3 linked regions of the Homo sapiens genome follow. The protein of the gene in region 1 purifies or fractionates together with the protein of each later gene. This does not show direct contact. Each region holds a gene or a part of one and is shown on either strand. Other genes may lie near its edges.

The links.
Region 2: the proteins of MTPAP (region 1) and ALDH3B1 purify together in Homo sapiens (co-immunoprecipitation; one large-scale study listed by IntAct). This does not show direct contact.
Region 3: the proteins of MTPAP (region 1) and GTF2IRD1 purify together in Homo sapiens (affinity purification with mass spectrometry; one large-scale study listed by BioGRID and IntAct). This does not show direct contact.

The regions. Positions count from the first base shown.
Region 1 is NC_000010.11:30,321,779-30,325,278, forward strand, and holds part of MTPAP (poly(A) RNA polymerase, mitochondrial precursor), read right to left. Parts: intron 840-3,500; coding exon 613-839; intron 1-612. UniProt on the Homo sapiens protein: Polymerase that creates the 3' poly(A) tail of mitochondrial transcripts. Can use all four nucleotides, but has higher activity with ATP and UTP (in vitro). Plays a role in replication-dependent histone mRNA degradation.
Region 2 is NC_000011.10:68,023,827-68,027,326, forward strand, and holds part of ALDH3B1 (aldehyde dehydrogenase family 3 member B1), read left to right. Parts: intron 1-975; exon of another isoform or gene 976-1,235; intron 1,236-1,360; exon of another isoform or gene 1,361-1,506; intron 1,507-2,182; coding exon 2,183-2,282; intron 2,283-3,500. UniProt on the Homo sapiens protein: Oxidizes medium and long chain saturated and unsaturated fatty aldehydes generated in the plasma membrane into non-toxic fatty acids. May have a protective role against the cytotoxicity induced by lipid peroxidation.
Region 3 is NC_000007.14:74,554,906-74,558,405, forward strand, and holds part of GTF2IRD1 (general transcription factor II-I repeat domain-containing protein 1), read left to right. Parts: intron 1-268; coding exon 269-318; intron 319-487; coding exon of another isoform or gene 488-532; coding exon 533-589; intron 590-2,733; coding exon 2,734-2,817; intron 2,818-3,500. UniProt on the Homo sapiens protein: May be a transcription regulator involved in cell-cycle progression and skeletal muscle differentiation. May repress GTF2I transcriptional functions, by preventing its nuclear residency, or by inhibiting its transcriptional activation.

The DNA.
Region 1 (3,500 bases):
ATTATCTTCCCTTTAGCATTTACAGTTTCAAGATTTTATAACATAACTTCTCCAGCAGGCCTCAGCAAGGCTGAGGCACAAGAATCACTTGAATCTGGGAGGCATTTATAAAATCATTTATAATACAAACAATATAGTATGTCAAATTTAAAATAATGCACCTAAGACTGCTTATATGCTTTTCATTAAAAACACATTTAGAATCTTTGAAACATCACGAAGCAGTTTTAGTATCTCTAATACAAGTCTAAACATAAGTTCAGATTTGAAAGTCATCTCTGAGACTGTGATCCAATCAAAAGTTGTATCTGAACAAGTTGTATCTGAAAAAGGTCATTCTAGACTTGGTCAACTAGGGGAGAAGCTCCAGCTATCTCACAACTGCTGTAAACAACCTTGCCAACTGATACAAAGAAAACAGAACTCTCAAAAAATGCTAAAGGCCCTAGCTTCCCAAATCATCTGCTCTCGTGACTCCGGTAGACTTTAAAAAAAAGTCAAGACAAATTTTATGACTAATAAACAAATAGACGGGACTTTGGTAACACATGGTAATTATATTTACTCATAACATTGGAAAAAGAAAATGGAGAAGTTTCTTTCTAGTCTTACCTGCTAGGGTTTTTAAGGAATCTAGTGTTGGAAGAATAGGGGGTGATCTTCTCTGGAGAAAAAAGATGACCATCATTGTAAGGGAGAAATTTGTAATCCATGCACCAGGAATACTACTTGTTAGTGAATGTGCTCGAGCCCAGCACCGTACACTGAACACCAAGGCTCTCACTCTTGAGTCTAGGGCACCATATATATAAAGGAGTTCGGAACTTGTCAAGGCAATCCTTCAAAAAATAAAAATAAGAAAAATGTTCAAATCCCCAAATTATAAACCAAGGGTAAAATTAAACTCAAACCAAGAAACACATCTAAATATCCTACTATATCTGAATGTATTCAGAACATCATTAGGTAATCAAAAGCATTATGAATTTGCAATATAAAATTTAATATGAATGGCTGAATATCAAATACATTCATTCCCATTAAAACATCCTCTTAAAATTGATAATTAAAATGTAAGCCGGGCTCGGTGGCTCATGCCTGTAATCCTAGCACTCTGGGAGGCCGAGGTGGGCGGATCACTTGAGGCCAGGAGTTCAAGGACAACGAGGTGAAACCCCTTCTCTACTAAAAATACAATAATTCAGCTGGGCGTGGTGGCGTGCCCCCGTAATCCCAGCTACTCAGGAGGCTGAGGCATGAGAATTGCTTGAACCCGGGAGGCAGAGGTTGCAGTGAGCTGAGACCATACCAGTGTACTCCAGTCTGGGAGACAGAGCAAGACTCCGTTTCAAAAAAAAAAAAAAAAAAAAAAGAAAGAAAATGTAGATCTAGGACCAGGCGTAGTGGCTCATGCCTGTAATCCCAGCCCTTTGGAAGGCTGAGGCGGGCGGATCACCTGAGGTCAGGATTTGAGACCAGCCTGGCCAACATGGTGAAACCCTGTCTTAAACAAAAATACAAAAATTAGCTGGGCGTGGTGGCGCATGCCTGTAATTCTAGCTACTTGGGGGGCTGAGGCAGGAGAGTCACTTGAACCCGGGAGGCGGAGGCTGCAGTCAGCCGAGAAAGCGTTATTGCACTCCAGCCTGGGTGTCAGAGCAAGACCCTGCCTCAAAAAAAAAAAAAAAAAAAAAAGAAATAAAGAAAATGTAGATCTAGAACTCAGAATATGTATGTATTTATTTATTTGAGACGGAGTCTCGCTCTGTCGCCCAGGCTAGAGCGCAATGGCGCGATCTTGGCTCACTGCAAGCTCCGACTCCTGGGTTCACGCCATTCTCCTGCCTCAGCCTCCCAAGTAGCTGGGACTACAGGCGCCCACCACCACGCCCGGCTAATTTTTTTGTATTTTTAGTAGAAATGGGGTTTCACCGTGTTAGCCAGGATGGTCTCAATCTCCTGACCTCGTGATCCACTCGCCTCGGCCTCCCAAAATGCTGGGATTACAGGCGTGAGCCACTGTGCCCAGCCTAGAACTTAGAATTTTTAAATCAAAGTTTCTAAACATGATTTAAATAATATGTAAAACACACAAAGGCGCTTTATAATTATTAATAAATGGCTGGGTACAGTAGCTCACACCTGTGATCTCAGAACTTTGGGAAGCTGAGGTGGGCAGATAGCTTGAGCCGAGGAGTTCAAGACCAGCCTGGGAAACATGACAAGACACTGTCTCTACAAAAAATACAAAAGTTAGCTGGGTGTGGTGTCGCACACCTGTAGGCCCAGCTACTTGGGTGGCTGACGTGGGAGGATCACCTGAGCCCAGGGAGGTAGAGGCTGCAGTGTGCCAAAATTAAGCCACTGGGCTTCAGTCTTGGCGACAGAGTAAGGCATCATCTCAAACACACACACATATATATATATAAAATCGATAAAGACAAAAAGGCATTTATTGGCTGGGCACTGTGGCTCACGCCTGTAGTCCCAGCATTTCAAAGCAGGAGGATGACTTGAGCCCAGGAGTTTGAGACCACCCTAGGTAACATAGTAAGACCCTGTCTTTATAAAAATAAAAAATGTATATATAAAAGAAAAACAAAATTTTAAAAATTTAATTAAAAAAATAGTCAGGCGTGGTGGCATGCACCTGTAATCCTAGCTACTCAGGAGGTTGAGAAAGGAGGATTGTTTGGGCCCAAGAGTTCGAGGCTACAGTGAGCTATGATCACACTACTGCACTTCAGCCTGGGCAACAGAGAGAGACACTGTCTCTAAAAAAGTAAAAATAGAATTAAATTAAATTAAAAATATTAAGCTCCTACTGATCAAAACGTGTCTTGTAATTTCTCCAAGAACCAACAGATGGCATAAAAAAATAATTTAACAGCATCAAGTTAAAACTGTCTCTAAAACTGTCTTTAAAAAGAATAGAAGAAACAAGGCCAGGCGTGGCGGCTCACACCTGTAATCCAGCACTTGGGAGGCCGAGGTGGGCAGATCACCTGAGGTCCGGAGTTCAAGACCAGCCTGGCCAACATGATGAAACCCTGTCTCTACAAAAATTAGCCAGCATGATCACATGTGCCTGTCCCAGCTCGGAAGGCTGAGGCAGGAGAATTGATTGAAGCCAGGAGGCGGAGGTTGCATTGCAGTGAGCCAAGATTGCGGCACTGCACTCTAGCCTACGCGACAGAGCAAGACTATGTCTCAAAAAAAAAAAAAGAAAAAGAAAAAGAAGAAACAGCAACTTAGAAATTCATTGTGATTAAGTGTTTTATGTATGAAAATGAAGCTAAATTAAGCTAAAAATAAATATCAAAAAGTATAAGGTATCTTGATATAAAGAAAAAAACATAATTACAAAGATAAATGTAATTTTGTCCTATTTTACATACTACAAAGAAAATATAATAATGATAGAAAGTACAGTATTATATTTTTATACTAAAATTTGTCAAGAAATCACAGACTTTACTCCATGAGTTTTACTTGAGAGA
Region 2 (3,500 bases), on another chromosome or scaffold:
AGCTCATGAGTTTGAGACCAGCGCTGGCAATATAGCAAAACCCCGTCTCTATGAAACATTTTTTTAAGATTAGTTGCGCATAGTGGCGCACACCTGTAATGCCAGCTGCTCGGGAGGCTGAGGTGGAAGGATCTCCTGACCCATAAAAAAAAAAAAAAAGTGACAGCAGTGCTTTACTATTAACTACACTCTAGACTTTATTTGGATTTTGCTGTTTTTCCACTGACATCCTCTTTCGGCCCCAGGATCCAAGCCAGGGTCCCACCTTGCATTAATAACCCTCTCAGCTTAAGGAGTGCTGGACAGGTCTCCTGTAGAACATCCCCAGCCTCAGGTCATCTGGTGTATTTCTCATGATTAAAGAAAGGTTACTGGTTTTAGGAGAGAATCCCACAGAGGTGAGCCTGCCTCTCACACCACATCTGGGGCACCTGAGATGCACACGTGGCTAGTGAGTGGAACCTTCACTACCGGGTCAGGACGGTATCTGCCAGGGTTTCCCTGGGAAGCTACTATTGTTTGTTTCTTTATTATTTGGAAGCAAGTCTCTAAGCCTACCCCACCCTCACCAGGTGGAGGTAATTAAGCTGTATGCTGCTCTATCATATTGTTAGTTATTATCTAGTTATTTTATACATTCTTTTCTTATTCCATTTGTGGTTTGGTGGAATTTTGTTGTATTGCCATTTGATACCTTTCTCTTCCTCCTTTGTATGATTGTTTTATAGGGCCTGTGAGTTTTGTACTTTTGTGTGTATTATGGCAAATACCAACTTGTTTTTATGTTAAGACTCCTTTGAGCATTTCTTGCAGGACTGATCTAGTAGTGATAAATTCCCCCAGCCTTTGCTTGTCTGGGAAAGGCTTTATTTCTTCATCTACGAAGCATAGTCTTAGCTGGATACCGTATTCTTGGCTAACAGCAGTATCTACATCTATTTCCTGGAATTCTGTAAGAAAGATTCATCTCTTGAATTGTTTATTTAGGTCACTACGGACTCAGGTATATTTATTTGACTCCAGGGGCTGTAATCCAAGGTCGTGTGGTTTGTCTGAGGCTCGGGCTCAGAAGCCCATGTAAGATGTCCCAGCCTCTTGGGTTGTGACCACCTCCTTCCCCTCTGGTGCTACAAGCAGCTCCAGGCTCATCTTGTATCTCCCCTGCTCCAACTCCAGAAGCAGCCATTCCTTCAAGGAGCCCTGCTTCATCTGGATACTTTCACCTTTAGAAAACTCTACAGAGGTTTTTTGACAGTGGAGTCATCTGGCTTCAAACTTTTCTGACCACCCAGAACTGATCCCAGGACACACAGTCACACCTAAGACACAAGTCATGCACAAGGTGGCTTGCCCGTACTACCTGGGACGCCCTCTGCTGCCTTCTGCTCCATCTCCTCCATCTGCTGCCACTGCCATTGTGGGTAATGCTGGTCTCATGCCATGAAGTGACGTCTGAATCCACTGGGGGCAGTCCGCTTTCCCCACATCAGACAAGCCCTGACCCAGCTGTGATCAGAGGTTCACGGTGATTGCAACTAAATATACTGAAGTTTTTGTGCAGCAACTATTTAGTGTCTACCAATCTTTTTTTCCTTTCAGTCTTCAAATAAGTCTACAGATTGAGGAAGAAGGTCCTTCTCAAGGACCTTCAAGCAAGGGCCAAGCTTCTGTTTCTAAAGTGCAAATCTGACCACATCATTATGTTTTCATGTCCCTGTGTTCACACCACACAGCTCTTCAGCCTCCACTCTGTCTGCAGTGCCCTCTTTGCCTGAACAACTTCTGTCCCTCCCAGTCCCTCCACTCAGCAGGCACATGACACCCCTCTCCTGGGATGCCTCCCTACTGTCCAGTACTGCCCTGCTGCCACTACACCCTCCATGTCCCCAAGCAACACTAGGTTTCCTGCCCCTACCCCCAGCCCTAAGAGTCTGTGCCATCAGCATGGACCACACATGAGCAGATGTCCAGGAAACATGTCCCAAGTTGGAAGCTTCATGAGGAGCTGCTACACAACCCCCTGCCCCACCTGTACCATCACAGGCCCTTCAGCTGACATGGTGGCCTCAGACCCTTTCTGAGGCAAGATCAGTGTCACAGAGTCCAGCATGGAACAGGCTCTGGGTCCTGAGGATCCTGATGGGGCTCAAGGCAGCCTCACGCACATCCTGTTCTCTCCCAGGTGGTCAAGCGGGTGCTGACCCAGACCAGCAGCGGGGGCTTCTGTGGGAACGACGGCTTCATGCACATGACCCTGGCCAGCCTGCCTTTTGGAGGAGTGGGTAGGTGCCTGCTACCCTGCCCTTCTGTTACCATTTGGTCAAATTGCAATAGTGTTACCTGCATACATTTCTGCCAAAGCACCCCAGCCCCACCTCAATGTAGAGGGACAGGCAAGGAGGCCTCACCCCAGAACCCGCATCCTGCTCCCCACCCCAGAGGGTCTGAGTCCAATCTGGGCAACACAGTAAGACCCCATCTCAAAAAAAAGTCTGTGGTGGAACCTTCTAGACCATCTCTGCACAGACACACAATTTAGTGAATTTTTAAAAATACCACACAACTATGATCACACTGCCCACTGCGATGCTATTTGCTCTTCTCCCCAACAGCATGACCTGGTGTCTGCCCCTCAGCAGCAATGCCGCCGGTGTCCTTTACTCCAGGGCAGCTGCTCCTCTAACCCCATCCCCCCTCCAGCTCTCAGTACAACACCTCCCCACCCTGAGAGGCCCGGATGAGTGCCAATCCTCCACCCCCCAGAGCAGCCCCGATGCCACTGCAGAGTCCTGGCCTCTGAGTCAGGAAGCCTCAGAGATGGTCCTAGCAACACGCTGAAGGCCCTGTGGCCCAGGTGACATCTCCCCTTTCTGAGCCCACTTCCTCCTCAGAGAACAGTAGGCCCCGAGCAGGTGACAGGCAGTCCCGCCACCTGTCCACACTCAGCACCACAGTGAACGATGGCAGGGCCAGGCAAGCTGCCTCAGGTGGGTCCATGCCCTTCCTGGAGGGCAGCCAGGGGCACAACAGTGCCTGTGCTGCTGTCCTGGCTCGGCTCGAGTTTGGGCGGCTGCCCCCGACCCCACCTAGCTGCCTCCCCAGCCCCAGCCCCAGCCTCCTCAACCCGCCTCCCTGCCCTGGAGGAGAGTCGGGGCTGTCTGTGGGCACATCTGACCCTGCTGCTCCCTCAAGAAAGCCTCCCCCAGCTCCCAGGCCCCCGAGCTGACCCTTCTTGGTGGCCGTGGCCCCACCCCGGCTTCCCCACCTGCTGCTCCCACAGCCTGAGCTCTGCCCAGGTCCCTAACACACCGCATGGCACCCACCTCTAAGGCTCCCCAAGCCTGGGTCCCTCTTGCCCCCACCCACTCTCTTCGTCTTATTAACTGCATATCCTTGGAGCTCACTCACTGCAGGAAGCCCCCCAGCCAACCCCACTCCACCCAGGCTGTGCTCTGAACGCCCTGGCCTGGGGCCTCGTCTGCCTCCCAACCTAGACGCTG
Region 3 (3,500 bases), on another chromosome or scaffold:
GACAATCGTGCAATGTCCCTGGAGCAGGAGTGAGATATCAGATGGACCTGTTCAGGACTGGGGGGGGTCTCACTCCCAGCTGGATCCTTCAAGCCCAGCGCAGCCCCCCAGATTCCACATGTGGGGCGGCAGGGACTCCAGGCCTGAACTATGCATAGCCAGAAGGGTCCATTGCAGGGCTGTGTAGACTGAGGCCCAGAGAGGAGGGCTGAGCAGTCCCAGAGATGCTTGGAGGGACCTCTGTGATAGCCTCGCTTGTGTTTTCCAGGCCCGAGCTGCTCACTGAGGGAGTCAAAGAGCCCATCATGGATAGTCAAGGTACCCAGCGCGGGGTCGGGAGCCATGGTGTGGGCGGGCAAGGGAGGGCCCCAGGCCTCTGCCACCAGCCCCTCCTCCTGCTGCCTCTGTCCTGCTCCCATCCTGGCCCTGGCATTCTCCCCACACCCCCACATTGGGTTTCCCCTAACGATGCCATCTTGGGTCCCAGGAACTGCCTCCTCACTTGGCTTCTCTCCCCCTGCCCTGCCCCCAGAGAGGGATTCCGGGGACCCTCTGGTGGACGAGAGCCTGAAGAGACAGGGCTTTCAAGGTAAGGTTGAGCTCACGGGGAGGTCTGTTGTCCCAGCACCAGGACATTGACCTGGTTTGGGTTTGGAGGGCCAGGCTGGAAGTGGGGAGGAGCTGGCCCCCAACTTCAGGGCCTAAGGGACCAGGCAAGCCAGGTTGGCAGCCCAGGCCCGGCTGTACCCTGCCAGCTCTGTGTTAGAGACTCCAGGGGAGAGGGGGTGCCTACAGGTGGACGGTCGGGGGAGCCCAGGAGCCTGCCTGCCCCCTCCCTGCCCCACCCCCCAGAGGTAGCTGACACGCCCACTCCTTTTTCAGCAATCAGCTGTGGTCTTAGTGCTTTGAAATCAGAATAGGAGCCAGACGCGGCACCTCACGCCTGTAATCTCAGCACTTGGGAAGGTCAAGGTGGGAGGATCGCTTGAGGCTGGGAGCTCGAGACAAGCCTGGACAACATAGAACCCGTCTCTATGTCTATTTTTAAGAAAAGAAATCAGAGGCCGAGTGCAGTGGCTCACGCCTGTAATCCCAGCACTTTGGGCGGCCGAGGCAGGTGGATCACTTGAGGCCAGGAGTTCAAGACCAGCCTGGCCAACATGGTGAAACCCCGTGTCTACCAAAAAAATACAAGAATTAGTTGGGCGAGGTGGCGTGCACCTGTGATCCCAGCTACTAGGGAGGCTAAGGCGGGAGAATCGCTTGAACCTGGGAGGCGGAGATTGCAGTGAGCCGAGATCATGCCACTGCACTCCAGCCTGGGTGACAGAGCAAGACCCTGTCTCAAAAAAAAAAGAAAGAGAGAGAGAGAGAGAGATGGTGGTCTGGGATCCCTCCAGCACATGCTGGCACTTGTCTTTGTTTGTTTGTTTGGATGGAGTTTTACTCTTGTTGCCCAGGCTGGAGTGCAATGGCGTGATCTCAGCCCACTGCAACCTCCGCTTCCCGGGTTCAAGCAATTCTCCTGCCTCAGGCTCCCAAGTAGCTGGGATTATAGGCACGTGCCACCACACCCGGCTAATTTTTGTATTTTTTAGTAGAGACGGGGTTTCACCATGTTGGACAGGCTGGTCTCGAGCTCCTGACCTCAGATGATCTGCCCACCTCAGCCTCCCAAAGTGTTGGGATTACAGGCATGAACCACTGCACCCAGCTTTTTTTTTTTTTTTTTTTTTGAGACAGAGTCTTGCTCTGTCACCCAGGCTGGAGTGCAGTGGTGCGATCTTGGCTCACTACAACCTCCACCTCCCAGGTTCAAGGGGTTCTCTTGCCTCAGCCTCCCAAGTAGCTGGGATTACAGGTACGCACCACCATGCCTGGCTAATTTTTGTATTTTTAGTAGAGATAGGGTTTCACCACATTGGCCAGGCTGGTTTCCAACTCCTGCCCTCAGGTGATCCTCCTGCCTCAGCTTCCCAAAATGCTGGGGTTACAGGCATGAGCCGCCGCGCCCGGTCACACTTGGGCGTTTTTAATGAACACTTTCTGGGTGAGGGTGTCTTGGTGGCTCATGCCTGTAATCCCAGCACTTTTGGAGGCTGAGGCAGGCAGATCACTTGAGCTTGGGGGTTCGAGGCCAGCCTGGGCAACATGGCGAAACCCCATCTCTACCAAAAACACAAAAAAGAAATTAGCCAGGTGCGGTGGTGCACGCCTGTGGTCCCAGCTACTCAGAAGGCTGAAGCAGGAGAATCGCCTGAGCCTGGGAGGTGGAGGTTCCATTGGGAGCCGCCAGGCCCATCCCCTGTGTCTGTGGGGACTGCCCATCCTCCTCCATCTGCTAGATCAGCTGGGCTTCCATTCCCTCGCTTGTCTCCAGCCCCCTAGTGACTTCATGAAGCCCCCGCCCCCTGCCTGCCAGCCCAGGGCACAGGACTCCGTACTCTATGGTGTCCCTCCCCTCCGGGGCTTATTTATTGGTTTGGTGGTTTTCAAATGTCATCAATTAACTTAATTTCCAACTCATCACTGTTGTGGCAACAGTGCATGTCCTTCTGAAAAAAAGACATCTCCATCAACATGTCGGTGCTGAAGGACCTGAGGGGCCCACTCCAAAGATCCTTTAATTGCCGGAGAAGGAGTTCCCCATAATTAGAAAATCATCTTCCTTAAAAGTCACCAAGTGCTTTTTCACTCAACAGCCCAAACCCATAATCGTTTTGCGCTTTGCAGAAAATTATGACGCGAGGCTCTCACGGATCGACATCGCCAACACACTAAGGGAGCAGGTCCAGGACCTTTTCAATAAGAAATACGGTAAGCAGTGCAGAACCCCCGGGGAGGGACACGCAGCTGCTGTGCACAGAGAAGTGGGAGGCTTCCCAGTTCCAGCCGAGGGCATTTCTGGGGAAACAATTCACCCCTTTACATGTATTTCTTGAGCATATACTACGTGCCAGGCACTGTCTCAGGCACTGGGGATATTGCTGTGAATAAAACAGACACAGTCCCTGTACTCATGAGCCTTGCAGACCAATGAGGTGAGATACACTTTCAAGAACTACACACAGAATTTAATAGACAAGGGCCCGGCACAGTGGCTCCTGCCTGTAATCCCAGCACTTTTGGAGGCTGAGGCAGGTGGATCACTTGAGCTCAGGAGTTCGAGGCCAGCCTGGGCAACATGGCAAAACCCCATCTCTACCAAAAACACAAAAAAGAAATTAGCCAGGTGCAGTGGTGCACACCTGTGGTCCCAGCTACTCAGGAAGCTGAAGCAGGAGAATCGCTTGAGCCTGCGAGGGGGAGGTTGCAGTGAGCTGAGATCGCGCCATTGCATTCCAGCCTAGGCAACAAAAGCGAAACTCCGTCTCAAAAAAAAAAAAAAAAAAATGGAGCATATGACATGGGAGCATATTGGTGTGGCTTTTTCTTTCGTTTCTTTTTTTTTTTTTTTTTTTTTTTTTTTTTTGAGACAGGGTCTCACTCTGTCACCCATG